Homo sapiens: one gene and its partners. The protein of the gene in region 1 purifies or fractionates together with the protein of each later gene. This does not show direct contact. Each region holds a gene or a part of one and is shown in the gene's direction. Other genes may lie near its edges. The genes, in order: RIMS1, SPECC1L, TMOD2, MAP1B, IGF2BP2, ELAVL1 and RAPGEF4.

Evidence for each region.
Region 2: the proteins of RIMS1 (region 1) and SPECC1L purify together in Homo sapiens (co-immunoprecipitation; one large-scale study listed by IntAct). This does not show direct contact.
Region 3: the proteins of RIMS1 (region 1) and TMOD2 purify together in Homo sapiens (co-immunoprecipitation; one large-scale study listed by IntAct). This does not show direct contact.
Region 4: the proteins of RIMS1 (region 1) and MAP1B purify together in Homo sapiens (co-immunoprecipitation; one large-scale study listed by IntAct). This does not show direct contact.
Region 5: the proteins of RIMS1 (region 1) and IGF2BP2 purify together in Homo sapiens (co-immunoprecipitation; one large-scale study listed by IntAct). This does not show direct contact.
Region 6: the proteins of RIMS1 (region 1) and ELAVL1 purify together in Homo sapiens (co-immunoprecipitation; one large-scale study listed by IntAct). This does not show direct contact.
Region 7: the proteins of RIMS1 (region 1) and RAPGEF4 purify together in Homo sapiens (co-immunoprecipitation; one large-scale study listed by IntAct). This does not show direct contact.

Annotation. Positions count from the first base shown.
Region 1 is NC_000006.12:72,175,894-72,180,049, forward strand, and holds part of RIMS1 (regulating synaptic membrane exocytosis protein 1), read left to right. Parts: intron 1-3,681; coding exon 3,682-4,022; intron 4,023-4,156. UniProt on the Homo sapiens protein: Rab effector involved in exocytosis. May act as scaffold protein that regulates neurotransmitter release at the active zone.
Region 2 is NC_000022.11:24,318,819-24,322,974, forward strand, and holds part of SPECC1L (cytospin-A), read left to right. Parts: intron 1-2,469; coding exon 2,470-4,100; intron 4,101-4,156. UniProt on the Homo sapiens protein: Involved in cytokinesis and spindle organization. May play a role in actin cytoskeleton organization and microtubule stabilization and hence required for proper cell adhesion and migration.
Region 3 is NC_000015.10:51,810,418-51,814,206, forward strand, and holds part of TMOD2 (tropomodulin-2), read left to right. Parts: 3' UTR 1-3,789. UniProt on the Homo sapiens protein: Blocks the elongation and depolymerization of the actin filaments at the pointed end. The Tmod/TM complex contributes to the formation of the short actin protofilament, which in turn defines the geometry of the membrane skeleton.
Region 4 is NC_000005.10:72,110,189-72,114,344, forward strand, and holds part of MAP1B (microtubule-associated protein 1B), read left to right. Parts: exon of another isoform or gene 1-3,299; intron 3,300-4,156. UniProt on the Homo sapiens protein: Facilitates tyrosination of alpha-tubulin in neuronal microtubules. Phosphorylated MAP1B is required for proper microtubule dynamics and plays a role in the cytoskeletal changes that accompany neuronal differentiation and neurite extension.
Region 5 is NC_000003.12:185,692,207-185,696,362, reverse strand, and holds part of IGF2BP2 (insulin-like growth factor 2 mRNA-binding protein 2), read left to right. Parts: intron 1-3,134; coding exon of another isoform or gene 3,135-3,186; intron 3,187-3,582; coding exon of another isoform or gene 3,583-3,600; coding exon 3,601-3,664; intron 3,665-4,156.
Region 6 is NC_000019.10:7,995,388-7,999,543, reverse strand, and holds part of ELAVL1 (ELAV-like protein 1), read left to right. Parts: intron 1-4,156. UniProt on the Homo sapiens protein: RNA-binding protein that binds to the 3'-UTR region of mRNAs and increases their stability.
Region 7 is NC_000002.12:172,741,870-172,746,025, forward strand, and holds part of RAPGEF4 (rap guanine nucleotide exchange factor 4), read left to right. Parts: intron 1-4,156.

The DNA of each region.
Region 1 (4,156 bases):
TTATTTCTCTGGGTAAAAAATTCCTATGGGTTTTATAAAATAGTTTATTGTACTTCTTAAGAATTAAGAGGAAAAGACAATTAAAAATGCAGTTACAGCAAAAGGTCAGAATACAATTTTCAGTCCTGCATATTTTCTGATATGTGGCATGGTGTTTCAAAAGTCATGTAACTTCACGATAGTATTTGAATTGAGTTTGTGTGTGATTGCTTAACATCTGTAAATTGTTAAGATAAGTTATTGCACAGGCCTACTTTAGTTTAGATTAGTTTGGAACACATCCCAGGGTATTTAATCAGGGTATAATCCTGCATAGTGCAATTTCTAAAAGGTGTGTTTGTGTGCTTTAAATAAATAGCATTTTTTTGTAGGCAAAGTTACGTCTTATCCTCTTTTCTAAAAAAAAATCTGTTAAAAATGACTCCCTACAGCACTCTTGTATTATCTATAGCTTCAGGCAAATATAATACTTAATACTGACTTCAAAAAATGTACTGTAGAGGTCTGCAATGTTTGGTATTAACTGTGTTGAAATGTATGACAATATTCTATTGTAATCTTATATATTTTTCTTTATAACTTATATGAGCAATTTATTTTTTATTTGTAAAATTTGTGGTATGATTAATTTGTAGAACTGAAAATAGAGACTGGGAGGTGATATTTTGATAAAAATAAATATTTTAACATTGCCATGGTTAATTTTACTTTCAGTTTGGAGGATGGATTGACTACACTTATAGTTAATTTAAAAATACAAATTTAAAAATGTTGTGGTGTACAAGGAAATAAGACATAGAAAAAGTTTGGAATTATACAGTATTTTACTAAATGTTAAAAACAAAAAAATTAACAAAGCATCACAGACTTAAATGAATACAAAGTATTTTAAGAATAGAATTTAAAATGCCTATGCTGTTTTGACATAGTCACTAATTGTAACCTTTTGAATAAACTGGAAATGAAATTAAATTGTAAAATTCAACTTATTTAATAATAATAAATTGTGTTTCTTTTAATTGATCTGGTAGCAGTTCTGCACATACTCAAAATTTGGAACATGCCCAAATCTGGCAGTTAGTTCTCATTGACCCATTTTTTGTAACGTTTAAAAATGTGAAGCAATCAAAATAAGATTGTGATAATAATTTCTAGAGAATATTCAAATGTAAAATGAAGAGTATCCTTTACCCTTCATCAGTATTATTGTGCTCCTTTCTGCTTCTTTATTTAGCTTTATTCAATTTTAGAAACTTTGTAATTGTAAATTTGTGTTTTCTGGTTTTTTAAAAACTGCATATTTATCCTAAGTATACCTTGATATTTCTGTAGAAAAGAACCTACTTGATTTTATTTTATTTCTTATTATTTATTTTGAGATGGAGTCTCGCTCTATCGTCCAGGCTGGAGAACAGTGGCGGGATCTCAGCTCACTGAAACCTCTGCCTTCCGGGTTCAAGTGATTCTTCTGCCTCAGCCTCCCAAGTAGCTGGGATTATAGGCATGCACCACCATGCCCGGCTAAGTTTTGTATTTTTAGTAGAGACGGGATTTCACCATGTTGGCCTGACTGATCTCGAACTCCTGACCTCAGAAGATCTGCTCCCCTCAGCCTCCCAAAGTGCTGGGATTACAGGTGTCAGCCACCACACCTGGCTGAAAAGAACCTACTTTAAATGATGATAATAAGTTGCTTACTATTAGTCTGAGAAATACAAATTTAACGTCTTCTTATTTGATGTAAAATAGTCAAAATTTCATACCAGTCTTGTTGAATTACATGATTTCAAACTTTCTTATTATGGTCTGTCAGCTAAAGAGACAAAAAACAAACCAACCAACCAAAACCTTCCCACCACACACGTCCTGTCCCCACTCAGGGTTCTGGGCAGAAGAGACTCAGTGTCACTGACTGTTCATGAAGGTCCTGGCCCTGGAGTACTGCACCTTTTAATGTTACCCTTAATATGTCCATGTTCAAACAATCAGGACTTCTGAGGGACCTACTCAGTAATAGATTTTGTAAAATATACCCTTATTTGGCTAGCACTTAAATTGAAGTTACTTTCCATAAAATCCTTATTTTGATATAGGTTTATGCAATGAATTGTTCATCTTGTTTGACATCTTAGTAGATGAGAATTCCGTAATATTGGTTATAATACTTTGTGTAGACATTATACCTAACTGCTTTTTTGAACCTAGTACACTTCATTTTATGACTGGGAAAGTCTAAATAAATCAATTAACCTTCATGAATTTTAAATTTTTTATAGCAAGTATTTCTCTTCAGTCTTAATTTTTCCTATATTATAATTCATTTGAGTTTTCTTTCCTGGAAAGCAGTTCTTAATTCACCTGCAGTATTTTCCTTTTAAAAAAGTGTATTACTTTTTTCCTGTCTTTTTCTTATTCTTATTTTAGCTTCATCTTATTCTATGGCTACAGTTACAGTTTTTCCCCATTTATCTGAATATTTTCAGTAGTTCATTTTCTTCATTTGACCTACTAAACAATGCTTCTTTTACTATTTTCTATTACTTATCAGTTAATGTTTCTACGATTTATTCATCCTGATGCAATATTTTTGAGTACATGTTGATTGAGTCAGTATTTGTGAAAAGGAAGCCTAGAGTTTGGTAATTAGTTTTTCCTGTGGAGGTAGTTTCTGAAGTAGAAACAAACACAAAACACCTGAAGTGCTTTTGGAGGCATGTAACTGAGGCAGCGATGTAAAGTCACAGCACAAAGAAACAGAGGTACTGAGGATATTTGAAAAGACAGCTCATGGAGCTGTTAGCACCTATCTTTGCCCTGTGACAGCTAGTCATTGCTGCTATTATTATTTTTTATTATGATAATCGTCCTCATTATTACATTCATTTTAAAGGTCATCAAATGGAGAACAGACATATAGTTTATTTTAAGTGGTGCTACATCTTATAATTTATCAGTGGATATGTTGCTAAATGATGGTTCCCCAATAGCTCTCCTTGGGGAACATTACATTGGAGTGGTCACATATGAATAAACTCAGAGTCACATTTATTGCTTTAGTAAATATGTGCATGGAAAATTATATTTTATAGCATAAATAAGCTTAAGGTTAGTTTATCACTAAGAAACTAGAGAAAATATACACATTGACCTTTTTTGTGTGCTTACTTTGTATGTTTCTTCTATGTGAATATTTTTAATATTGCCTTTAATTGTGGGTGATTTTTGAAAAGACAGACTTTTTAAAAATACTTGCAAGTACTGAGGTTTATGTATTTACGTACTGATTCTGTAGTTCCTGGTAACATTTTTCTTTTTTTTTCCTGGTAACATTTTTCTAATCAGTTAACTACCTTGCTTAGAACATTTTTGCTAACACTCCAGAGTCAATTATAAAAAATATGACAGATATATGGTAAAAGGAAATTCAGAATAATCAAATCAGAAATGCTGAGAAAAAACCTCTACTCTGGCTGCTGAGAGGCTCTCTAGTCTCAGACAAGTCCCTGTCTAGGCATTCATATATTTGACTGTGACTTGTGGGAGGACCATTTTCACAAGAAATTTGCAAGGATAAATATGAAAATGAATACTGTTCTTTTTTTCTTAAATATATTTTAAGATACTGAAAAATTATTTCCAAGAGGGCATAAAAATTTATATTGTTCTTTCTTCTTCAAATAGGTTATGTGGGTATGCAATTTATGTCGAAAGCAACAAGAAATCTTAACCAAATCTGGGGCATGGTTCTTTGGAAGTGGCCCTCAGCAGACAAGTCAGGATGGAACCCTGAGTGATACAGCTACAGGTGCTGGCTCTGAGGTACCAAGAGAAAAGAAAGCACGACTCCAAGAGCGATCGCGGTCTCAGACACCCCTAAGCACAGCAGCTGCCTCCTCCCAGGATGCTGCTCCTCCCAGCGCACCACCAGACAGGAGCAAAGGGGCTGAGCCCTCGCAGCAAGCCTTGGGGCCTGAACAGAAGCAGGCTTCATCCAGGTCTAGAAGTGAACCTCCTAGAGAGAGGTAATAGTTCTTTCACCCTGTAAGCAAAAGGCAAGATTTTGCTAGGAGAGCAAAGCCGTTTTCAAGAATTTAACTTCTATTACGAGGAATATGTGGAAGTAGTACTTCTCAGGCCCCACATGGAAAAACAAAAG
Region 2 (4,156 bases), on another chromosome or scaffold:
CTCGGGTGGCTGAGGTGGGAGGATCACCTGAGCCTGGGAGGTAGAGTTGCCGTGAGCTGTGATGGCACAACTGCACTCTAGCCTGGGTGACAGAGCCTCAAAAAAAAAAAAAAAGTTATGCCATCTTTTTCCATTTTTGGCCTCCGTATACAGTTGTTTATCCCAGTCTGGTTACTCTTGCCTTTGATATCTGTCACAGATTTCTTGCCTCTTCTCTGTTCTTACTGCCGCCCCTGAATGTGGGACCTCTTTTACCTCATTGATCTACCTGCCCACATTCCTCCTCTGCTGCTCTGCTTTCTTCCTTATGTATTCCACTTAGAATCTGTATTAGTCCATTCTCATGCTGCTGTAAAGAACTGCCCCAGACTGAGTAATTCATAAAGAAAAGAGGTTTAATTTACTCACAGGTCCACAGAGATGGGGAGGCCTCTGGAAACTTAGAATTATGGTGGAAGGGGTAGCAGGCACATTCTTCTCCACATAGTGGCAGGAAGGAGGAGAATGAGAGCCAAGCAAAGGGGAAGCCCCTTACCATCGGCTGTCATGAGAACTCACTATCACGAGAACAGCGTGAGGGTAACTGCTTCCATGATTAAATTACCTCCCAACAGGTCCCTCCCGAAACACATAGGGATTATGGGAACTACAGTTCAAGATGAGATTTGGGTGGGGACACAGCCAAACCATATCAGTATCCTCTAGATTAATTTTCATAAAATGTACTTTTCCTTACATTTCTTTCCTACTCAGGATCATTTATTGACTTAGTGTGACTCACTGAATTCTGCCTATCTTTTGGGACTCTATATGAACATTCCCCAGCAGCTTCCGTTAACTGTGTGACTGTACTTTTCCTTTCTGTGTGCCATGTTCACTTCTGCTTCCTTTCGTTGTCTGTCTTTTTGCCAGCCTGAATTCCGCATCCTCCTGTATACCTGTTCTGTTAGTGGCTATCTCCCTCTATCTGTGGAGATCATTTGCTCCCTGTTACCTCTACAGCCTGGATCCCACCACCTAATGAACCAGCAGGGTCTTTAAAAATACTTATTGATTAGATGTGGATCTTATTTTTTAACATAAAAATTTGTTATTTCTTAAGTATTTACAGGTATTTAAACATATTCCTGGCCAGGTGCGGTGGCTCACGCCTGTAAGTGCGGTGGCTCACGCCTGTAAATTCAGTGGCTCACGCCTGTAATCCCAGCACGCTGGGAGACCGACGCGGGCAGATCATTTGAGGTCAGGAGTTTGAGACCAGCCTGGCCAACATGGTGAAACCCTATCTCTACTAAAAATACAAAAAAATTAGCCAGGCATGGTGGCACGCTCCTGTAATCCCAGCTACTTGGGAGGCCTAGGAAGGAGAATCGCTTGAACCTGGGAGTCAGAGGTTGCAGTGAGCCGAAATCGCTCCACTGCACTATAGCCTGGGTGATGGTCAAGAGAGACTCCATCTCAAAAAAAACCAAAAAAACGAACAAAAAAAACTTCCTGTTCTTTTTGTATTAAACAAATGATTGTGTCAGTTTTCACAGGTTTAAAATTTTAGTAGTTAAGTAATCATGTGATTCACGTAGATTTGATTGACGCATCATCATTATTTAACATTAGTGCTTCGTTGTTTTTTACATTTAGAGAGACAGTATAACATACTGGTTAAGGTGCAAAATCTGGAACCAGACTGCCTGGGTTTCAATTTTGGCTCATCTATTTATTACCTGTGACATGTTGGCAAATTATTTAACATCTGTGTCTGAGTTTCTTCATCTGTAAAACAAGGTGATAATAGCACCTACCTCACGTCTTTAATGAGGCTTATATAAGTTAATGTATGTGAAGTGTTAATGTATTTGTATAACCAAGTGCTAGGTATGTGTTAGCTATTGTTATAATTGTTATTATTTATGTGGCATTTTATGGTGTTAAAACTATTTTGCATTTACTTTGGTCAGAGTAAAATTTTTGTGTTTCTAGTAGGTAGCTTAGATTTTTGGTTTTCCCAGAGACTGCTTTTCCCTTCTTGCCCACCTATGATCTCCCTTCACTATCTGTGTACAGTTAGTTTACCACCGACTGGCTAATCCTGGAGTCATCTTCACCTGTCTTGCCCTAGAATATTATGCCTCTGGCCAACTGGTTAAAACCCCACTTCTGGATTCAAGTTAATGTATATCATTTAAATAACAGCTTTGTAGAAATGTAATTCACATTCCATAAAATTTACTCTTTTAAAAACATGTAAAACAAAGTGTATAACTTATTTCTCCTTGATAATTAAAAGATGAATGATCTTCTGGTTTTGAAGAAATTGAACTTTAACAGACTCTAAGGCAAGATTATTGTAGATCTAAATCATTGTGTAGATCCTGGATTTCATCTCATTACACCTGGGGCAGGAACTGTGTATTCTATGTAGCCTTTTATTGCTGACATTTTTGCCTTACATTTTTTGTATTAAACACATAGGCACAGCTTCTTCAACCAAGCGGAGCACTTCTACAGGTAATAAAGAATCCAGTTCTACTAGAGAAAGATTACGTGAACGTACCCGATTAAACCAGAGCAAAAAACTACCTTCTGCAGGTCAGGGAGCTAATGACATGGCATTGGCCAAACGTTCCCGCAGTCGAACTGCTACAGAATGTGACGTTCGTATGAGCAAGTCTAAGTCAGACAATCAGATCAGTGACAGAGCTGCTTTGGAGGCCAAAGTGAAGGATCTTCTCACGCTGGCAAAAACCAAAGACGTAGAAATTTTACATTTGAGAAATGAACTGCGAGACATGCGTGCCCAGCTGGGCATTAATGAGGATCATTCTGAGGGTGATGAAAAATCTGAGAAGGAAACTATTATGGCTCACCAGCCGACTGATGTGGAGTCCACTTTATTGCAGTTGCAGGAACAGAATACTGCCATCCGTGAAGAACTCAACCAGCTGAAAAATGAAAACAGAATGTTAAAGGACAGGTTGAATGCATTGGGCTTTTCCCTAGAGCAGAGGTTAGACAATTCTGAAAAACTGTTTGGCTATCAGTCCCTGAGCCCAGAAATCACCCCTGGTAACCAGAGCGATGGAGGAGGAACTCTGACTTCTTCAGTGGAAGGCTCTGCCCCTGGCTCAGTGGAGGATCTCTTGAGTCAGGATGAAAATACACTAATGGACCATCAGCACAGTAACTCCATGGACAATTTAGACAGTGAGTGCAGTGAGGTCTACCAGCCCCTCACATCGAGCGATGATGCGCTGGATGCACCATCCTCCTCAGAGTCGGAAGGCATCCCCAGCATAGAGCGCTCCCGGAAGGGGAGCAGCGGGAATGCCAGTGAAGTGTCCGTGGCTTGCCTGACTGAACGGATACACCAGATGGAAGAGAACCAACACAGTACAAGTGAGGAACTCCAGGCAACCCTGCAAGAGCTAGCTGATTTACAGCAGATTACCCAGGAACTGAATAGTGAAAACGAAAGGCTTGGAGAAGAGAAGGTTATTCTGATGGAGTCTTTATGTCAGCAGAGCGATAAGTTGGAACACTTTAGTCGACAGATTGAATACTTCCGCTCTCTTCTAGATGAGCATCACATTTCTTATGTCATAGATGAAGATGTAAAAAGTGGGCGCTATATGGAATTAGAGCAACGTTACATGGACCTCGCTGAGAATGCCCGTTTTGAACGGGAGCAGCTTCTTGGTGTCCAGCAGCATTTAAGCAATACTTTGAAAATGGCAGAACAAGACAATAAGGAAGCTCAAGAAATGATAGGGGCACTCAAAGAACGCAGTCACCATATGGAGCGAATTATTGAGTCTGAGCAGAAAGGAAAAGCAGCCTTGGCAGCCACGTTAGAGGAATACAAAGCCACAGTGGCCAGTGACCAGATAGAGATGAATCGCCTGAAGGCTCAGCTGGAGAATGAAAAGCAGAAAGTGGCAGAGCTGTATTCTATCCATAACTCTGGAGACAAATCTGATATTCAGGACCTCCTGGAGAGTGTCAGGCTGGACAAAGAAAAAGCAGAGACTTTGGCTAGTAGCTTGCAGGAAGATCTGGCTCATACCCGAAATGATGCCAATCGATTACAGGATGCCATTGCTAAGGTATTGTTTAAATAGATTAAAATGTTCCGGACAGCATTAGGCAGCTGCCATGCACA
Region 3 (3,789 bases), on another chromosome or scaffold:
CAGTATGCTACTGAACGTATCCTCTCAACTCCATGTTCACTACCTTCTTGTTACTACAGTGGCTTGAAATTGGCCATGGTAGAAATATTTACACCACAGAAATTAGCAATATGTAAGAAATTGGGGTTTTCTCCCTCTCCAGATTGCTGGTTGATAAACATTCATCAGCACACCACTGGGTGAAATTATACATTTTTTTATACATATGTTTCGCTTATCATGTTGCCGAAGGGAAGAACATTTCTCTTAGATGTCTTTTCTCCTCTTTGGATTTGTTACAAACCTGTTTAAGTGCTGAGTCCCTGACCTGCCTCTCCAAGTAAGCCTTTTTCCTTTTTTTTTTTTTTTTTCTTACTCTCATTCTTGCCTTGACTCTTAAAATCCTGGACCCTATAGAGCATTCCTTGCAGCCCCACAGTGCTGTGGGCTGGGGGCTAAAGCAGTTCTTGGCAAACTCTGGCAGAAAGCAAGAAAAAAAGAATCAGAATTCAATCATGGCTGTTTCTTTTGTACAAGCAGTTGTTGATAGTATTAAAGCAAGATAATGGGACATTATCAAAAATATAGCACTGTTTTTACCTTATGAAATAGTTGGGTTGCATGCAACAGAGTCTATGAAATCAAATGTTTTTTACTAATCAGTTTGTTTTCTTATTACCTGTGTTTTTAAAGTGGCTTGAAAGGTGGCATTTCCATGAGTGTGCACATATTGATGATAACCCTTAGAAAAACATACACTTGAGGAGCCTATCCATCATTTAATTAGCCTAGGACTTCATCTCCCTCTCTGCCCAAAGTGTGGAAGTGGTAGCTCTTTCATGATCATGGGCACAGTTAATCCTTTGCTATCCATTGTGATGGGGCATAATGTATATAAAATATTTTTCTATGTATTTGTTCTGCCAGATACTGTGTTGAGATATTTGGCAATATCTGGATAACTGACTGAAGGGAGATAACTTCTCCCCAGGCCTATCTCCCTCCCCCTTTTAGAGTTGTGCAGGTCCACTTTAAGTGTAAAATCACTCACCTGGACTTGTGGGCTTGTATCACCAACATCTATTATGGCACATGTAGATGACATTTAGGAGAAAAACCTTAGAAGTCTAGAAATCATATGATTAGTTCAGCACTGCAGCTCCCCATCTGCTTATAGTGTATAACTGGAAGCTCTTTCATCCTCATCAGCATGATTAAATGACTTCGTTTCTTTCATCTTTGGAGGGTATAATGTAAATAAGTGTCGTGTGTGTATGTGTGTGTGTACTGTCAGATATCTAACTAGGTATTTGGCTACATCTGGACAACTGATTGAAGGGAGATGCTCTCTCCCCAGTCCTCTTCCCTTGTCCTTTTTAGAATTGCTGCAGGCCCAGGTTAAATATGAAATTACTCCCTAGGCTTTGCAGTTTATGTTACCAACCACCACATTTTATAGCTATGTAGAGGATGACTCTTAGGAAATAAATATTAGAAGCCTAGAAATCATTTAGTTGTTCTAGCACCAAATCTATCCATTTGCCTAATGTATTTAACATTCCATCCTCATCAACATGATGAAGCCCCTTTCTTCCATCTTTGTAGGGCACATTGTATATAAATATTTTGTACATAAAGATCATCAAATACCATAATGGGGTATTTGGCTTCATCTGGAAAATTGACTGGAGGGAGATGCTGTCTCCCAGCCCTGCTTCCCTCGTCCCTGTCCAAGTTGCTGCAGGCCCAGGTTAGAAGATTACCAACCTGGAGGGGCATGCAGTTCATCTTACAATAAAAGCCCATTCATTTAAAAACTCAGAAATCATCCCAGTGCCTGTACTCCTCAAACCAATTTCCCTAAGGGAAGACTGGCACACCAGCCCAAAGAGCAGGTGCTTCTCTTCCAACAGAAACATGGCCCCTGACAGGGCACCAGCATTAGGGAAACCAATGTCCTCCGAATAGCTGCCATGAGAACATTTCAGATGCTCAAACTGAAAATTCTTAAAACCAATATTAAGCATCAGCATGCTTTAAGTGTAAGATAGCCCTTTGGAATTTACAAACACATGTGCAGCTATTTCCTTCTTCACAGATATGATGTACTCAGCCCCCTCCTAGGCACTACGAAGAAGACAGAGGAAGCATAAAAATTCTGGACTAATATAATTTTATATGTGTTTCTGAGATTGGGGAGTAGACTGAGTGCCTTTTTTACAAAGAAGATCCCATATTTAATTCAAGTATTTATAGCATCAGCAAAAATGGGCAGAGGGCGGGAAGTTGAGAACACTAGGTTCTGTGCTATGTTACCTGTATTCAGTAGAAGTGTTTCTGGAGTCAGGTTTTAAGTCATGATCCTGAAGCTTCCTTCCCCTCTTCCACTAATGATGCAATAATAGCTGTTTTCATTTTAACGAGCAGAGAACTAAGAGGAAAGGTCCTAGCTCTGCCTTCCACTTGCAGCTTCCCTTTACCTCCTCTTATTGCTTTCATCTCAAATATCCCTGCTACTCAACCAATCCTAAAGCTAAAGTACTGAGATGCACACAAAGGAAAGGTGTGAGAGTGCTTGGAAGCATCCAGCTGAGCCCACTGGATGAAAATCAGACGATAGGGCCTCCTGTTGTAATATACTAGCCAGAGAAAAGCGCCAAGAACTTCAGGGATATTATTCACTGCTTTATTGCTCCCTAACCCTAGATCAGATTGGATTTTACTTTGTAGTTCAGGAGTTAAGAAGTCAAATTGCTGACCGAGGTGGGGAAGGATGATGGAAATTAAAGGTTTACATTTGTTTAATGGCAGAACTGAGATTTGCTCAGCTTATCTCTTTCCCATCTGTCTGTAATAGCAATGACTGAATAATCAGTAGACCAATGGAAGAGGAGTTGCAAGTTTAAATTTGTAACCTGACTCTGGGTTCTGTTCTAGGAATAGTGCATGTTTTAGAGGCTTTGCCAGTTGGGATACATTGTTGACTTGGGGGAGGATGAAGGAGAGAACTGATGACCTAGACATAGAAAAGAGTAGTTAACTAACTAGATGTTCTTCTGATCTCTTCCATGGTAGACATTCTGAGCACATTGGCCCAGTTAGTTGGTATGGTGAAGGGGCACCGTACTAACAGATTTGGAGACTGAAACCTAATCCCATCACCAACACTTAGCAGGTATATGATCATGGGCAATTCATTCAATTGCCTGCCAATTATAGACTATATAGGGGGAAGAGCACTGGATTTGGAGTCAAGAAACCTGGACACTTGGCTCCACACTTCCTTAGCTGGGTAACTTTGGGCAAACCGCTTGGTCTCTCAAGCCTAAGGTTCTTCAGCTATAAAATGGGAATAATACTTCACTAACTACCTCACAGAGTTGTGGTAAGAATATAATCAGATAACTGGATAAAAACACTATATAAACTGGAAAGCGCCGTACAAATGTGAGAGATCAGTTTTATTATCAAATCACTGTTTTCCACTGCCTCTTGAATCGGCTTTATTCTAACCAACCATTACATCTTTCTCATCTTTTGGAGTATGGGTAATTGAGGCTTGGGTGTGTCATCAGGGACTGGAGTTATTTCAGCTCCCATGTAGAGGTGGGAGAGGTGGTTGATGGGGCAGTGGAAGTTAGATACCAGCGATGTATATGGTAGGACATTTTCCTGGGTCACTTTGACAGTACCTTGGGAAATTGTCAGTCCTTGCAGAGGGCCTAGGCTGGGCACAAGGGAGAAAGCGAACAGTTGACTAAGAATTGAGGGGAGGGTCTGGAGCGCTACTGCCCTCCTGTCATTGCTGTG
Region 4 (4,156 bases), on another chromosome or scaffold:
ACATTACTGGAACCCCAGAAGCCCCCTTGTGTTCCCTTTGCAATAGACATCATGGCTTCCTGATTTTTTAATTCCCTAATTTGGTCAGGTTTTTGCATGGAACTCCGAAATGACTGTATTGATCCCATTAAGAATCAACCAAGTGAGTGAGCAGAGCCGTTTCTTTACACACCGTAGCAGATGCTGCTTTTCCTCTGAAGATGGCTCTCCTGGGTTCTGGGGTCTTGGCTGCAGCTCAAGATGCAGGCCCTTCCAGCGCTAAGTGAAAATCCTGCTCCCATAGCTTTTCAGACAGTCTGAGATGACTTAGCAACAGAGCAGGCTGGTCCTGTTTTCCTGTGCACGACAAGCTGCTGCTTCAGCCGCCAGGTCTCAGCTGGGCCTCCTCCAGAGGCCACTGCTGTTGTTGCTTGGTGCCTTTGGGCCTTGTTGTGTGAAGCAAGATGGAGCTGCTCCAGGGGGGCCAGCTCTGATGATTGTGTGTTGCAGGCTGGGAAGGCAGTTCCGCATCTGTTACTCTTTCTTCCTATTTCCCCTCCTGCCTTAACTGAGATTCTGGGTTTGGAGACCCTGGCGACTTGGATTCTTGCCATCCGATTACTGAGGGCTCTCTGGGAAGCCTAGAAAATAATCTATAAATCTGTAGAGACATGGTGGTAATGCAGTAAATCAACAGGCCTGGAACGTCCCAATGTGGATGCTTCGTAAATGCCTCTTGAAACCAGGGAAGAGAGATGGTCCCTCTTGCTTTCTCAACTATATTCGGAAAGCATAATGAAAGCTTTGGACATGTCTCCTCCAGAGTTTGGAACAATAGTGTTTCCTCGGACTAGGCTAGCTTCATTTATTTAGTTATGCAGGACTTTATTCCAAATCGTTTTCGCTACCACCAACTACTACTCTTTGGCACCTCCTTTTTCTCCTCCCTAATTAGCCCCCAGCATGGATTTAGCTAGTGGTTCTCATTTTCAGCAAAACCCTGCTTCTTGGTTTTATTTTAATACATAGAGGACATACATCCGTGTCTTGCAAACTGAATTCTAGAGCCTTGTGAACGTTTTCATTGTTTCATTTTTTTTTTAAGGAACTAAAACATATAAAGAATATTAAGTGTCTGTTGGATGTTTTCAATTACCGTTAGATTATAACTTTTCCTTTAGTTAACACTGGGAATCAGCAAGATTTGTTGGTGAAAAGATAGATGAATGTAACATCTACTGCTCTGCATTTTTAGATAAAAGTTTAGCTGATTACATTGTTACATTCTGATGTCACTTAACTGAATGTCCTTCAGTCTAAGATGGTAAGAGAATTTAAAACCCAGGAAAGATTTGGGGTTTAGTTTTCCTTTTCTTTTAACAGGGGAAATAAGAAACCAATACCATATGTGGTGAGAATTAAATGTTAGAGAGTCTTAAATTTACTATATTTGCCTATACTTTTCAAAGTCGAAGACAGATGGATTTCTGCTTGCACTGCTTAATTGGTATTATCTACGACAGCTCTGTGATCCATGCTGAAACACAAGGCAGTCCCCAAATTTAAGGTCATTAAATTGTTCACCTTCTCTAAGGGCTTACTTTAAAAAAATAAGTTATAACTTTTTAGACAAGCAAATAATTATGTCACTTCTCATTTGCTTGTGTTGTAAGATGTTATCTCAGACCTAAATTATTTATTATCAATGCTTTGAAACTATGAGCTCTGTATGTAAGATATTATCGTCATTACATACATATGTTATGAACATCAAGTTGCTGGCTTTAAAAAAAGAAAAAAAGCAAATTAAAGATGAGTTCAAGGGAAAAAATAAGAATTTTTTCCTCTGAGAAATAAAGCATTCCTAAATGTAGCATTTCCTTTAGTTCATTTATTTAGTTTATGATTTCAATCTGATTTCAGACCACTTTTTAGCATAGTTTTACAAATATAATCTTATGATTCTAGGTTAATGATTTAGGTACTTGGAAAAAATATCCAAAAGCCTGTTTTTCAGAGGGAGCAACTAAAGCCCATAAAGGAAAATCAACTTGCCAAAGGCCCAAATAACTGTCAGATAGAACCCATGTGCCATCAACATACAATGCATGGTCATTTCATTTTGCTTTCTTCAATCCACTGTCACCTTTAGAAATATGAATTTTAGCTTTTAAATGGGAGGTGCTTTTTTAAATTGTTGGTTTCATTAAACAACCCTGCAAAATGCTTACATGATTGGAAAACTTGGAACAATCTAGCCTGTACACACCAAGAGTACCTGACTTCTCCTCATTTTTCACCCTGACTTGTTCTTTAATGACCCCTCCCTGCCTCCCTGCCCCATAACCTATTCTTTTCTCCTTTTCTCATCTGTGTATATCATGTGCATGTCAGCCTCCCTTGTGTGCACTGCTACCACCTGGGGTCAGAGAACTGAGAAGGAAAGATCTTTTGTTGCTCCCTGGTCCCAAGGAGCTCACTTTCAGGGCTGGGCAATAGCCACAGAGCAGGCCCAGATTGTTCTCAGAGATGACGGATGCCTTTTGGCTCCAGACATTGAAAGAATGGGGTTCACTGCCTCCAACTGCCTGGAGTTATTCTGCCCCCACCTGGGTAAGCCCAGAAGGGGTACAGTCTTAGAATGCTGGGGAAACAAAGCCTCCAGGAAGAGCTTGACTTGGTGTATATTGGGGTGAAAATTAGAAAGAGGGCTTCCCTGCTCCCCAACAGAGACCAGGATGACTTGCTTCTGAAAGCCTCTTTAGAACCTCTTCACCAACACCCCAGGATGCCCTCCAGCCAGATTCAGAGAGGGGAGAATATGGGAAGGGCCAAAGAGATATTTTTCTGTCCTGTAAACTTTAGAGGGCTCACTGTTGGCTCCTTGTTAGGCACAAAGGGGAACTACATAAACCTACTAAATGCAATATGAACCTTCATTAACAACTACTCTTTGCCTTTACCAATATTATCCAGCAGGAGATACAAAGTAATTACAAATTATTTTATTTCTAAAATTGGTATGGAAAGTGGCCTGATTCCAAAATTTTCCTTTCCAACTAAAATAGCTGGCAAATCCAACATAACCTTTATTTTATAAGTGGTAGTAGTGGTTGTGCATTGCTAAGAAACAATTTGGGTGGAAATTGCTCTCTTGAAAAAAGAACCCTACATTTTTAGTTTCATTGGGAGTGTAAAAATGAGAAATATTTTTATCAGCCGTTTACTAGTATAATTTAGAAATTACTAAGTGGATTTATCATTTAGTACTTTTTCTATTGCTAAATTACAAATATGTCAAAAATAAAATATGTATGAAAATATAAAGCAAACATTTAATTGTGTGTGCCATGACAAGTTAACTGAAGCCAAGGGAAAATGGCAAGTAACAATGTAAGAGCAAGTCTGCAGATAACCCTGGATGAAGTCATTCAAATAATGTACCAATTTAGACATTACTTAGAACAAAGACAGAAAAATTGTATGAATTTAATTTAAATGCATATGTCTCATTATTAACTTATTGACCCAGCTTGACAGGGTAGAAGACAAAGTAGAGCTCAGACCTGGAACAAGGAGAATTCAGTCAACAATACCAATTAAGCAGCTCAGACAGGAACTCGATTTTTTTGCACTAGACTAGTATATAGTGTATACATTGAAGTAAAATATTCTAATGAATTCAGACCTCTCAACCTGTCAAGCTCTCTGTGAAACAAAAAGAACCCATTTATCATTTCTGCACTAAAAAGATCTGCGAAATCTCAACATGCCTTTCTTGTTAAAATTCAAATACTCCATTAGCACAAATGCAAACTGAGGCTATTAATGTTTCCAGGAAGAGCCATAAAATTCTCCCTTATAATTTGACCTTTCCTTAAGCACGTTAACTCTTCCACATCTGAATTCTTCCCATTGATCATATGAGAAATTTCTGCCTGTATTTAGTGGACACACATCTATTTGAAAATATTCCTCCTGGTTGAAAAGGTCTGTGGTGTGTAATCTAAAGATATTTTAGATGTGCAGTGAACTGAGTTTCCAGAATCTTTTTTTTTTGTAATGTCTATGTATAATCCACCTTGATTCTTTACAGGATAGGAAGACTGAATACAATATAACCAAGGGTAAATACAAATATGCCTTAAGGATCCAGTGTGTATTTAAGTAACACACT
Region 5 (4,156 bases), on another chromosome or scaffold:
GCAGTGTGCTCAAGCACTGACAAACGCTGTCAGGCTAGGGTAAGCTTAATTCACTTAGGAGTAATTGGATTTACACGGTTGCTACTTTCCTTTCCCTGGATAAGAAAAACAGATCCCTAATGTCTTGGACTGAGTGTTACCCAATGAATAGGACTCCTATACCAATAATCCCTTGAAGTGCTTGTGAATTGCAGACTCCTAGGGCTTACTGTAGACCTGCTGAGTAAGAGTCTTGCAGGGAAGAGCTCGTGAATCTATATTTAAAAAAGCACCCGAGGCCAGGTGTGGTGGCTCATACCTGTAATCCCAGCACTTTGTGACGCCCAGGTGGGCAGATCACATGAGGCCAGGAGTTCAAGACCAGCCTGGCCAACATGGCAAAACCCCATCTCTACTAAAAATACAAAATTAGCCAGGTATGGTGACGCATGCCTGTAATCCCAGCTACTTGGAAGGCTGAGGCACGAGAATCGCTTGAGCCTGGGAGGTGGTTGCAGTGAACCGAGATTACACCACTGAACTCCAGCCTGGGTGACAGAGTGAGACTTTGTCTCAAAACAAACAAACAAAAACCCTGAAGTGATTTTTGTGTACACTCAAGTTTGAGAACACCTGTCTCAGGAGCAGTGCTGCAAATGCCCAGAAGATACTTTTCTTCCTGCCAACCTCTTTTTTATCTTCTAAAGCATGAAATACTATGATTTTTAAAAGGAAAACAGTGGTACCTAAAGCTGATATCTTATCTAGCTCTTTAAGAGTCCCAGAAAAGTAGATTCCAAACTCCTGATGTGACAGGCAATAATACATGATAAAGATTATTTTTGCCTTGACCTAGAAAACAGAATGTAAATTCAGTCATTTACTGACTGCGAACCCTTGAAAAAGTCAAATAACCTCACTGACTCAGTATGCACAAGTGTCAAATTGAGAGAGAAATTTCTACCCTTCCTCTGTCACTGGATAGTTGTGTTACCCAAAGAGAACCTGTATAAGGCATTTGTAGACAGCAGAGTCATACGTAAGCTGAAGGGATTGTTCAAGTTCACTTAGGAAAAATTGCAAACAACCCATTTTCTTGTATATGATCTATTCTGCTAGTTTAATTAATAGTTTTAAAGCAGTAATTATTCAGATATTATTCAGTTTATGCTGCTGCCTGCCCATGCCCAAAGGTGAAGGGAAAGAGCTCAGAAAGAAGACATGATTTATAAGGATTCTATTTCTTAGTTCTTATTTCCTTCGACATGGAAAGAAGACTCCCCCTGCTTTTTTTTTTGAGGCGGAGTCTCACTCTGTCGCCCAGGCTGGAGTGCAGGAGCATGATCTCTACTCCCTGCAACCTCCACCTCCCGGGTTCAAGCAATTCTTGTGCCTCAGCCTCCCTAGTAGCTGGGATTATAGGTGAGCGCCACCATGCCTGGCTAATTTTTGTAGTTTTAGTAGAGACAGGGTTTCACCGTGTTGGCCAGGCTGGCATCAAACTCCCGGCCTCAAGTGATCCACCCACCTTGGCCTCCCAGAGTGCTGGGATCACAGGTGTGAGCCACCGTGCCCGGCAGAAAAGAAGACATTCTAATGATTGGGTGTTGTAGGCAAGATGGTCTTGCAGACATGAACCTGTAAAAGTTACTAGTTAAGATTATATTATAAACTGAGGACAATGCTACGCAAGAAAAATATATTCCAGGTCCCTGGGGCAGTTTATAGGTCCTAGGGCAGCTGTGTGCTGGAGACCCCCCAGTTTCCAGCTGCCTAACAACAACAGGATAGAACTGTTGGGCTATTGTTTTGTCCTGTTACATGAGTGATTCCTGATTCAGCAGGAAAATATTTTCAGTAGAGTTTTAGGCAACTTTATAGAACTTTCATGCCCAGTGAAATAAATTATTTGAATGGAGCTTAGCTCGTCACAGAATCAAAGAACTGCCTGATTTCCTGAAGACTAACATCTTTGAAGAACAGAGCATATGACTAAGAAGTGAGCACAGAATCTGAGAATCCTAATGGATAGCTTTATTCAGGAGGTTCAAACCCAGCCCTTTCTGGGAGTCTACAGCCTTATCTGTAGCACTAGAAAGCAGCAAATATGAAACCTTTTTAGCATTCTCTGTGTCAGCACTGAGAGAGGACAGTAATGTGCTACACCTCCCCTGTTTTGCACTGTGAGGACTTCTGTGGGTTAAGTGTGAATTAAAGCGTGCTATGAACACTCCAGGCCAAGGCCAGAGCTGGGCTCGGGTTTATTACATGTAATTCTCAGTGGCAGCTCTTTCTGAGCATTACATACAACTCCCTGCAACCCATAAAGGCTGCAGCTGCTTTAAAGTTATTTAACAAACAGTATTTTTAACAGTAGTCCTTAAGCTTTTCGGGGTCTCAGGTCCCTTTGCAAATCTTGTAAAATAACAAGAAAAATTCACATTTCTACAAGTTTGAATCATTTTGGAGGGGTTTATAGAATTCTTGAAGCTCAAGCATGGGTCCAGTGTAAAGAATCGTATATTATAGAGTTTTATTATTACTTTGGACAGCAGGTTTATCATAATTTTCTTGAATTATCTTTAACTTAATGTTGTTGTTAACTCCAAACTCCCAACAGCTTAAATCTTTTAAAGGGAAGAATTGATCTAGTCACCTTTGTTTTGGGAAACATATATTTTTGGTGTTTAAGTTTACTGGCTTGGATTGAGAAAGTTTTCTCTGGCATTTGAATTTATTTTTAATTTCTAACTATAGAAGAAGAGGCAAGAAATTATGATCTAAGACAAGACAACTCACAAGAGTAATCCCTTATTAGCCAATCATAGAGTTTATACTTTCTCTTTTAGCCAAGTAATTAGAATTGTCAGTTTTATTTATTAGATTTAACCCACACAGTCAAAGAGTTCAGTCAAAGGGAAACAAAAATAGTGATGGTTCAACCTTGTCAGTGAATGAATAATTTAAATTAAAATATTTTCTTATTGTTTTATATGTATATCCAATTATTTAAGAATTAATGCAAATTATAATTAAAACTCATACCTTGATAGTGATGTAATAAATTGATACAAACTTCTAGGAGACCAGTCTGAAAATATGCATTAAAAAGCATCATGTTCTTTTACTGCATTACTTTTCTTCTGTGATTTTAGCCTAAAGAAGTAATTCAGAAGAACACACAATCCAGTGATGTTTGCAACAAAGGTGATTTTTAGCAACACTATTTAGACTAGCAAATAGTGGGAACAGCCTACTTACCAACAATTGGGGAATGGTTAGGCAAGTCATGGTACATTTGACTCACTGCAATTTTATATAGACATTAAAAATGAAAAATACAAAGAAAATGTACTGATACAAAATACTCATATAAAAGTGTTTATAAAATATGTGGAAAATATAGTTCTGAGTTGTTCATACGATTGATTACAAACGTGTTATATACAATTGATTACAAATTACTGTGAACTCAGATGAATAAACGTAGAGATGCAGATAACTGTGGAGCCAGTGTGATGAGGGTTTTATGCATTTTTCTCTAAAGTTTGTCTGTTTACATTAAGCCAGAGGGTGACAGCACTTTTTCCTATGACAGTGTAGTTTTTGCCTTTTCCCTAGTCAACACAGACACAGAAACCGCCGTTGTCAACGTCACATATGCAACAAGAGAAGAAGCAAAAATGTAAGCAGATTTGGGCTTATTTCTGTTTAAATTTATTTGTTTTTATATTTGAATTCCATTGAGTTCTGTGTTTTTAAATGTTTTCTAAAAAGATGCAGATCTTTGAGCTGGATATGTGCCACCTTTGACATACCCATGGAGCTCCACGGCATCTGAGCCACCTTTGACATATTGGTAGAGCTCCAGGGTGTTCCTGCCATCTTTGACATGTCAGTGGAGCTCCAGGACATTCACACCGGGATATTTGTGGATTGTGTAGAGACTTGAAAAATGTTGAGCCTTGGCATCAAAACCAAGATGGGAGCTGTGTCTTGACATGATCGGGAATAGAGGGCACCATACCTGTGACACTGTGTCTCCTAGACTCTGCTTTGCCAAACACTTGGGACCACTTTTACCTAGAGCTTCCTCCATGCACTGTGAAGAGGCAGCACAAGCCTATACCAAAACATCAATTTTGTGTGTGTAACATTAGGAGGGAATCCACCTCAG
Region 6 (4,156 bases), on another chromosome or scaffold:
CCTGGGCCCTCAAGGTTCTCACCACTGACATTGGTCATTGAGTGTAAGGCAAATAATGATAGGAGTGGTTGGGACAGTAACAAAGGTTTACAGCAATGGCATGGAGGCACTGAGAACTAGAGTAAGTAACCTGTTGTCCTGGGGGAAGGTGGCCTTTTATTTTTTATTTTTTTGAGACAGTCTCACTCTGTTGCCCAGGCTGGAGTGCAGTGGCGTGATTTTGACTCACTGCAACCTCTGCCTCCCGCGTTCAAGTGAGTCTGCTGTCTCAGCCTCCTGAGTAGCTGGTACTACAGGCATGCACCATCACGCCCAGCTAATTTTTGTATTTTCAGTATAGACAGGGTTTCACTATGTTGGCCATGCTGGTCTCAAACTCCTGACCTCAGGTGATCCGCCTACCTCGGCCTCCCACATTGCTGGGATTACAGGCATAAGCCACCACGCCAGGCCAGGAAGGTAGCTTTTTAAAGATGAGCCAGCCTGGTGTAGTGGCTCTCACCTATAATCCCAGCACTTTGGGAGGCCCAGGTGGGAGGATGACTTGAAGCCAGCATGGGCAACAAAATGAGACCCCTGTCTCTAAAAAAATTTAAAAATCAGCCAGGTATGGTGGCACACACCAGTAGTCCCAGCTACTTGGGAAACTGAGGCAGTTTGAGGCTGCAGTGAGCCGTGATTATGCCACTGCACTCTAGTTTGGCAGCAGAGCAAGACCCTTTCTCAAAAGAAAAATAAGTAAAAATAGAAGTGAGCTGGGAGGCCAGGCATGGTGGCTCACACCTGCAATTCCAGCACTTTGGGAGGCCAAAGTAGGAGGATCACTTGAGCTTGGGAGTTCAAGACCAGCCTGGGCAACAAAGAGAGACCCCCATCTCTTTAAAAAAAAATACTAATTTTAAAAAATGAGCTGGGAAGTGAAGGAGAGGACACTAGTGCCCTGCAGAGGGAACAGCCAAAGCAGAGGCCTGTAGCATATTGGCAAGAAGCTGGAGTGAGCGGGAAGGGAGGGTGGCGACTGAGGCTGGAGAACCACCTGGGTCCGATTGTGAAGGGCCTTGCCAGTTTGACAGTTGCATTGTCATGACAACTTGAGGCCTGGCCCTGCCACTTATTAATGGCATGCCTGACCGTGAGCATCATCGTGTGACCGCCGAGCCTCAATGGGTGGTGACCACTGACAGGGAATACCAGAGGGGTGAGCATCTTGATTGCAGGACAGTGCAGGCCTTGCACCTCGAGAGACAGAAGTGGCTACGACTTGGGAGTCAGTGATAATTGAGTGGTGACAAGGCCCAGTTGTGGTTGGAGCTTGTGGGATAGAAGCTGATTTGGCCCAGGATTGATGATGCAGATTTGGAGAAGGTCAAGGGAAGGGCCTCCAGAGAGTGGGGTGGGGGCCCAGAAACGTCATGAAACTGCTTTGCAGGGCAGGTTGTTGGTTTCTCCCGTGTTACTAGTTGACCAAGAACTTGACCTGCAGGGGCTGCTCAGCCTTGACTCAGAGTGTCAGGAGGAACAGGGCCGCAAAGCAGAAGTTCTCTTTTTAAACCTTTTAAAATTTATTTTTATTGTGGTTTTGTTGTTGTTTTTGAGGCAGGATCTCACTCTGTCGCCCACGCTGGACTGCAGTGGCACAATCATAGCTAACTGCAGTATTGACCTCCCAGGCTCTAGTGATCCTCCCAGCTGAGCCCCCCGATTAGCTGGGATTGCATACAGGTGTGCATCACCATTCCTGGGTAATTTTTAATTTTTTTTTTTTTTGTAATGATGGCATCTCTCTGTGCTGCCCAGGCTGGTCTTGAACTCCAGGCTTAAGCAGTCCTCCCACCTTGGCCTCTGAAAGCGCTGGGATTAAAGGCATGAGTCGCCACACTCAGACAATTTATTTTTAAATTTGCATGTAGGAAAATTCATTTTTTCGAGTAGAGTTCTCTGAGTTTTGACAAACGGATAAAGTTGTTTGATTACCACCATAATAAAGATTGGAAAGTTCGCTCTCCCACAAACAGAAATACTCCCTCCTCCTGTCCCTGTGTAATCGACTTTTCCCCTCACTCCCTAACCCCAGCGACCACAGATCCATCCCTATGGTTTTGCCTTTTCCAGGAAGGCACAGAAATGATGTGGCAAGATGTGTTTGAGATTCACACAAGTAGCATGAATTGGTGATACCTTTTATTGCCAGGTGGTATTCTGTTGTATGGTGTATCCCAGTTTATCCATGAATGGCTTGAAGAATATTTGGGTTGTTGTAGTTTTGGATGATTATGAATAATGCCGCTCTGCACATTTATATACAGATTTTTGTGTGAATATAGATTTTCCTTTCTATTGCCTTAATACTAGGAGTAGGATTGCTGGATCCCATGCTAAGTGTATATTTCACCATAAGAAACTGCCAATCTGTTTTCCAAAGTGGCTGTCACATTTCACATTTTTGCATTCCCACCAGCAGTGCATGAATATTCTGGCTTCTCCACATCCCTGCCAGCACTTGACATTGTCTGTTTTGTTGCTGTTGGTTGTTTTTTGTTTTATTTTGCTTTAGCCATTCTAATAAGTGGGTAGCGGTGTCTCGATGTGGTTTTAATTTGACTAATGATGTTGAGCATCTTTTCATGTGCCTGTCTGCCATCCATATATATTCTTTGGTATAGTATCTGTTCAAATCTTTTGCCATTTTTGAAACCAGGTTGTTTGCTCATTATGTTGTTTTTGGTTTTTGGAGATGGAGTCTGGCCCTATCGCCCAGTTTGGAGTACAGTGGCGCCATCTCGGCTCATTGCAACCTCTGCCTCCCAGGTTCAAGCGATTCTCCTGCCTCAGCCTCCCCAGTAACTGAGATTACAGATGCCCACCACCACGCCTTGCTAATTTTTTTTTTGTTGTATTTTTGTAGAGATGGGGTTTCACCATGTTGGCCGGACTGGTCTCAAACTCCTGACCTCAGGTGATCCACCCACCTCGGCCTCCCAAAGTGCTGGAATTCCAGGCATGAGCCAGCACACTAGCCTGCTTCTGTTTTGAGAGCTTAAAAAAAAGTGTTCTGGGCCAGGCGTGGTGGCTCACGCCTGTAATCCCAGCACTTTGGGAGGCCGAGGTGGGCAGATGGGCAGATCACGAGGTCAGGAGATGGAGACCATCCTGGCTAACACGGTGAAACCCCGTCTCTACTAAAAATACAAAAAATTAGCTGGGCATGGTGGCGGGCGCCTGTAGTCCCAGCTACTTGGGAGGCTGAGGCAGGAGAATGGCATGAACCCGGGAGGTGGAGCTTGCAGTGAGCGGAGATCATGCCACTGCACTCCAGCCTGGGTGACAGAGCAAGACTCCATTTCAAAAAAAAAAAAAAAAGGGTTCTGGGTTGGGTGAGGTGGCTTACGCCTATAATTCTAATACTTTGAGAGGCCAAGATGGGAGGATCACTTGACACCAGGAATTCAAGACCAGCGTGGGCAACATAGTGAGACCCTATCTCGACAAAAAATAAAAAATTAGCCAGAAGGCTGAGGCAGGAGGATTGCTTGAACCCAAGAGTTTGTGGCTGCAGTGAGCTATGATTATGGCATTGCACTTCAGCCTGGGCAGTGGAGTGAGACTTTGACTCAAAAAAAAAAAAAAGTGTTCTGACTACAAGTCCCTTTTGCAAATGTTTACTCCAGTTGGTGGATTTTAATTCTCCTAGCAGTATCTTTCACAGAGCAAAAGTTTCAAATTTTGATGATATCCAGTTTATCCATTTTTTTTTTTTTTTAACGAAGTGGGCTTTTGGTGTTGTGTCTGAGAAATCTTTCCCCAGCCCAATGCCACAAAGATTTTTCTCCAAGAAATTTTATGTTTTTACATTTTAAAACAGAGGTCGGCAGATTTTTTTTGTGTGAAGAGCCAGATGGTAAATATTCTCAGCTTTTTTGGCCATACGGTTGCTACTACTTAACTGTGTTATTGTAGTACAAAACTATCTATAGACAGACAATACATAAACAAATGAGACAAGCTGTATTCCAATAAAACTTTATTTATAACAACAGGCAATGGGCCAGATTTGTACCACAGGCCATGATGTGTGTTTCAGGAGGTCCACTTTTCCCAGACCTAGAGGATACCACACTGTGGACAGTAAGCCTGGGACAGCCATTGTCCATCTCAC
Region 7 (4,156 bases), on another chromosome or scaffold:
CCTATGTTGCCCAGGCTGGTCTCAAACTGCTGGGCTGAAGTGATCTTCCCACCTTGGCCTCCCAAAGTGCTGGGACTATAGGCTTAAGCCACTGTGCCCAGCCAGTATGATCTGTGCCACCCCTTCCCTGGCTCCAACATCATCAACTTACAGCCAACCTTGTTTTGTTTATACCTTCACGCGCTCCCCACTCCCCCCAGGATTATTTTCAAGCAAATCCCATGTATTTCATCTGTAAATATTTTAGTATATGTCTCTAAAAGGTAGTGACTTTTTATAAAGAAAACAATACCACACACATTAAACAACTTGACGTTAGTTCTCTAATATAATCAATTATTCAGTCAGTGTTCAAATGTCCCCATTTACCTCATAACTTTCTTTTTTGCAGTTTGTTTGTATCAAGAGCCAAATAAGTTGCATTTAGTTGATATGTCTATAGGTCTGGGTTCTCTCTTTCTCTCTTTTTCTTCCTTGTAATACATTTCTTGAAGAAACTGGGTTGTTGTTGTTTTTTTCAGTCTGAATTTTCATTGTACCTCCATGCAGTTTTTTAAAACATGTTCCTTTGTCCCCTGTATTTCCTGTAAATTAGTATTTGGGTCTAGAGTTTGACTTTTTGGTAAGAATGCATCACAGAAGTGTTATATATTTCCATAATGAGGTATATAATGTCAAGTGATCTCTTTTCATAATGTTAGCAATATATTGTTTTTAAAGTTTAATGCTTGGGAATTATCTATTTGCAATTTATTGGGAGACATTTCACTGTGGCCTCAAATACATGGGAGCACATGACATATATATTTGGAGTAATTTGAGAACAATACAACCTCATATGTAATTAGGGTTAAATTCTGTTGTGCTGATTTTACTTGCTTTAATCTATTAGGAAAGGAAAGTTTAGCCAGACCTGGACTCCCTCAGACTGGGGATACATGTAGGATTGGTGTGCTCAATCCACACCCTTGACCCTGCTGCCTGGTCTCCTGCATGCAGCCTGGGAGCTGGAAAGAGTCTTCAGAGGAAAAGTGGTGCTTAGCAAAGCAAATCCAGCCTCTTTGTCTTAGTTGGAGTTCTCTCAAATGGATTTCTGGCCCCTCCTGTGAGGTGGGACTGGCAGATACCTTTTGTTGGAATTTCCCATGAGCTTAGAAGATTTTATGGCCCTCTCATCGTAGCTGCTTATTGTCCTGCACCACCTCCTCACACCCCATGCAGCTAGTTTTTCTTCAGTCAGAATAAAATCACGTTTGTGCATCCTCAACAGTGGTCAATGAGAGTGGGTTTTTCCTCCAGTACTTTCACGTCACAGATGAGGGAGAGACTGCCCTAGGAGTACTGAGAGACTGAGGAAAGAGAAAGAGGATGGAAAGAACTGGGTGGGGAGGGAGACAGCGAGAGATCCAGCTGAACATCTGACAGAAAACAATCTGGCTGACGAGCGGAGGCGGACAATCCTGGTGTGTTGACTCAGCTGCATCCGTGTGCACCCTCTTGCTTCCCCTGCCCCAGAAGAAACACAAAGTGCTGCCACTACTCTCTTTTCTCTCCATGCCAGCTCTTTCTTGGCGCAACTATCTGTTTCCTTTGCTGTAACTGCTCAGATTCCTTAAACTCTGTATCTGTGGCTTATCTTCTAGACCAGATGTATTTTTGTCTGTTGGATATTCCCACATGAATATCCCATTAATATTTTGTGGGGCAGACATTGTTTTCCTTCACCTACCTCTGCTATAGAGGCTAGAAAAACAACATAGTTATTTTCCCAATCTTCCTTCAGGTGAGGTGTCCATGTGGCACTGTCTGGCCAATGAGACATAGCAGAAGTCTACAGGAGGCTTCCAGGGAAGCTCTTGCTTTACCCGTGTATTTGATTTCCCCTTCCTCTCTTCTTTCTGCCTGGAGTTACTACCCGAGGCCCGGGCCTGTGGCAGCCATCTTGTAATCCCAGGAGCAAGTGCCCAGAGAAACACAGAGCCCCCAGTTCTGACTTTGTCCACCTGCTGAACCCAGATCAGTAGTTACCCACCTTCAGATTTTTGTTTTGTGAAGAAAAAAGCCCTATTTCTCTAAAGCATTCTTTGTTTGGTGTTCTATCATTTGCCATCAAAATGATCTCTAACCTAACAGATTGATACTTGTCTAAAGTTGACCTCATCTTTTTTAGCCCTGCTCCCCATTTGTTTCTCCTTCTTGCTTTACTATTTTATTTATGATGTCATGACTTCCTCATTCTCAGAACTTTGAAGTTATCTGCATTTTCCCTTTCCTATGTCCTTTTCCACATCTAACCAGTCACTAATTGTCTTGACTTTTATTCCACTTTTATTTCAGGGCCTTAGCATCTGGATCTCCCCGTTTTCTGTTTCCAGTCTGGAAAACATGATATAGTCAAATCAGCTTTGTCTTAGGATCAGCCAGACCTGGATTCAAATTCTGTCACCTCTACCCTCTAGCTATGTGATCTTGGCCAAGTTATTAATCTTTTTGAATCTTTGTTTTCACATCTTCAAATGAGATTCCCAGTGCCTACAGTAATGGCTATGTTGAGGTGTGTGAGCTAATGCAAACGTTGCGTGGTCATCTCTAGAGAGAAAATGTAGTGTAGAGGTTAAAAATTTAGGAGTCAGACTGTATAGGCTCAAACCCCAGTTTTAATTTTATTGATGGTGTAATTTTGGGCAAGTTATTTGGTTCTAGTAGTTACTTTATAGATTCATTGGGATTTTCCCTGTAGACAATCTTGAATGTGAATACTGGTAGTTTTACTTATTCTTTCTGATTTTTATGTCTTCTATTATTTATTTTTCTTGCCTTATTGCATTTGCCAGGAATGCCAGGACAAAATTGAATAGAAGGGGTGAGAATGGATGCTCTTGTTTTGGTTATGATCTTATAAAAAATAGTTTGCTATTTTGCCACATTAGTTGTCTTTCATGTAGTTGTTTTTTTTTAGCAAATTCCCTTTTCTGAAATTATTGAGATGATTATATTATTTTTCTGTTTTATTCTGTAAATATAGTGAATTTACATTGTCTGAATTTCAAATGTTAAGCCAACCTTGCCTTCCTAGAATAGATACTACTTTGTCAACATGCATTATACTTTTTATATATTACTTTATTCAACTTACTAATATTTCATTAATGCTACTTTCATGTCAATTCATGAGGGATATTAGCCTATAACTTTCTTTTCTTATTTTAGTATCAGGATTATTCTGGCTTAATCAAGTGAATTAAGAAACATTTCCTTTTTTCCTATTTTTTCCCTCTATTTTTAAATGAACTTATATAAGATCAATGCTATTTATTTTACAAATGTCTTATAGATGTCATCTGGGCCAGGAGTTTTCTATATGAAAAGCTTTTTAATGACAAATTCAAACTGTAATAGAGGACTGTTCAGATTTTCTTTTCATGTCAGTTTTTATAGTTATTTCAAGGAGTTTGTCCATTTCATCTAAGTTATCAAATTTATTGACATAGAGTTGTTCATAGTATTCCTTATAATCCTTTTAATGCCATTAGGATATGTAGTGTTGTTCTGTCCTTTGTATCCCATATTGGTAATTTGTGTCTTTTTTTTTTAATTCATTCTTACTAGGAGCTTCCCAATTTTGTTAATATTTTAAAAGAAACAACTTTTAGTTGATTTACTGTTTTCTTTGAGAAATTTATTGATTTTTGCTCATTTTTTTTTCCTTTTTTCTCCTTACTTTGGGTTTAACTTATTCTTCTTTTTCTGGCTTCTTAAAGTGGAAACTTAGTTGGTTAATTTTAACCTTTCTTCTTTACTAATATAAGCATTTCAGCTTCAATTTCTCATTTTCAACACAAGGAAGCACAGGTATTTTTTTATTCAGTATTTGTAAACTTAAACTATTTCTGCTGGAGAAGAACAATTAATCAAGCTGATACTGGGACCTCTTGACTCCCTCAGCCTCAAGAATATACTTTGCAATGTGGTGAACAATATCCTCAACAACATTCCAACAGTGATTCAGCAGTGAGTTTCACAGGCTCTTTAAATACAGCATAATTCTAAAGAAACATTAAGAAAGGGTAATTCTGCGAGGGGGCCAATATAATATACAGTTTTCAGGTGATCTGATTTAATCCAAGGAAAGATTGTAGTATATTTTAGAAATAGA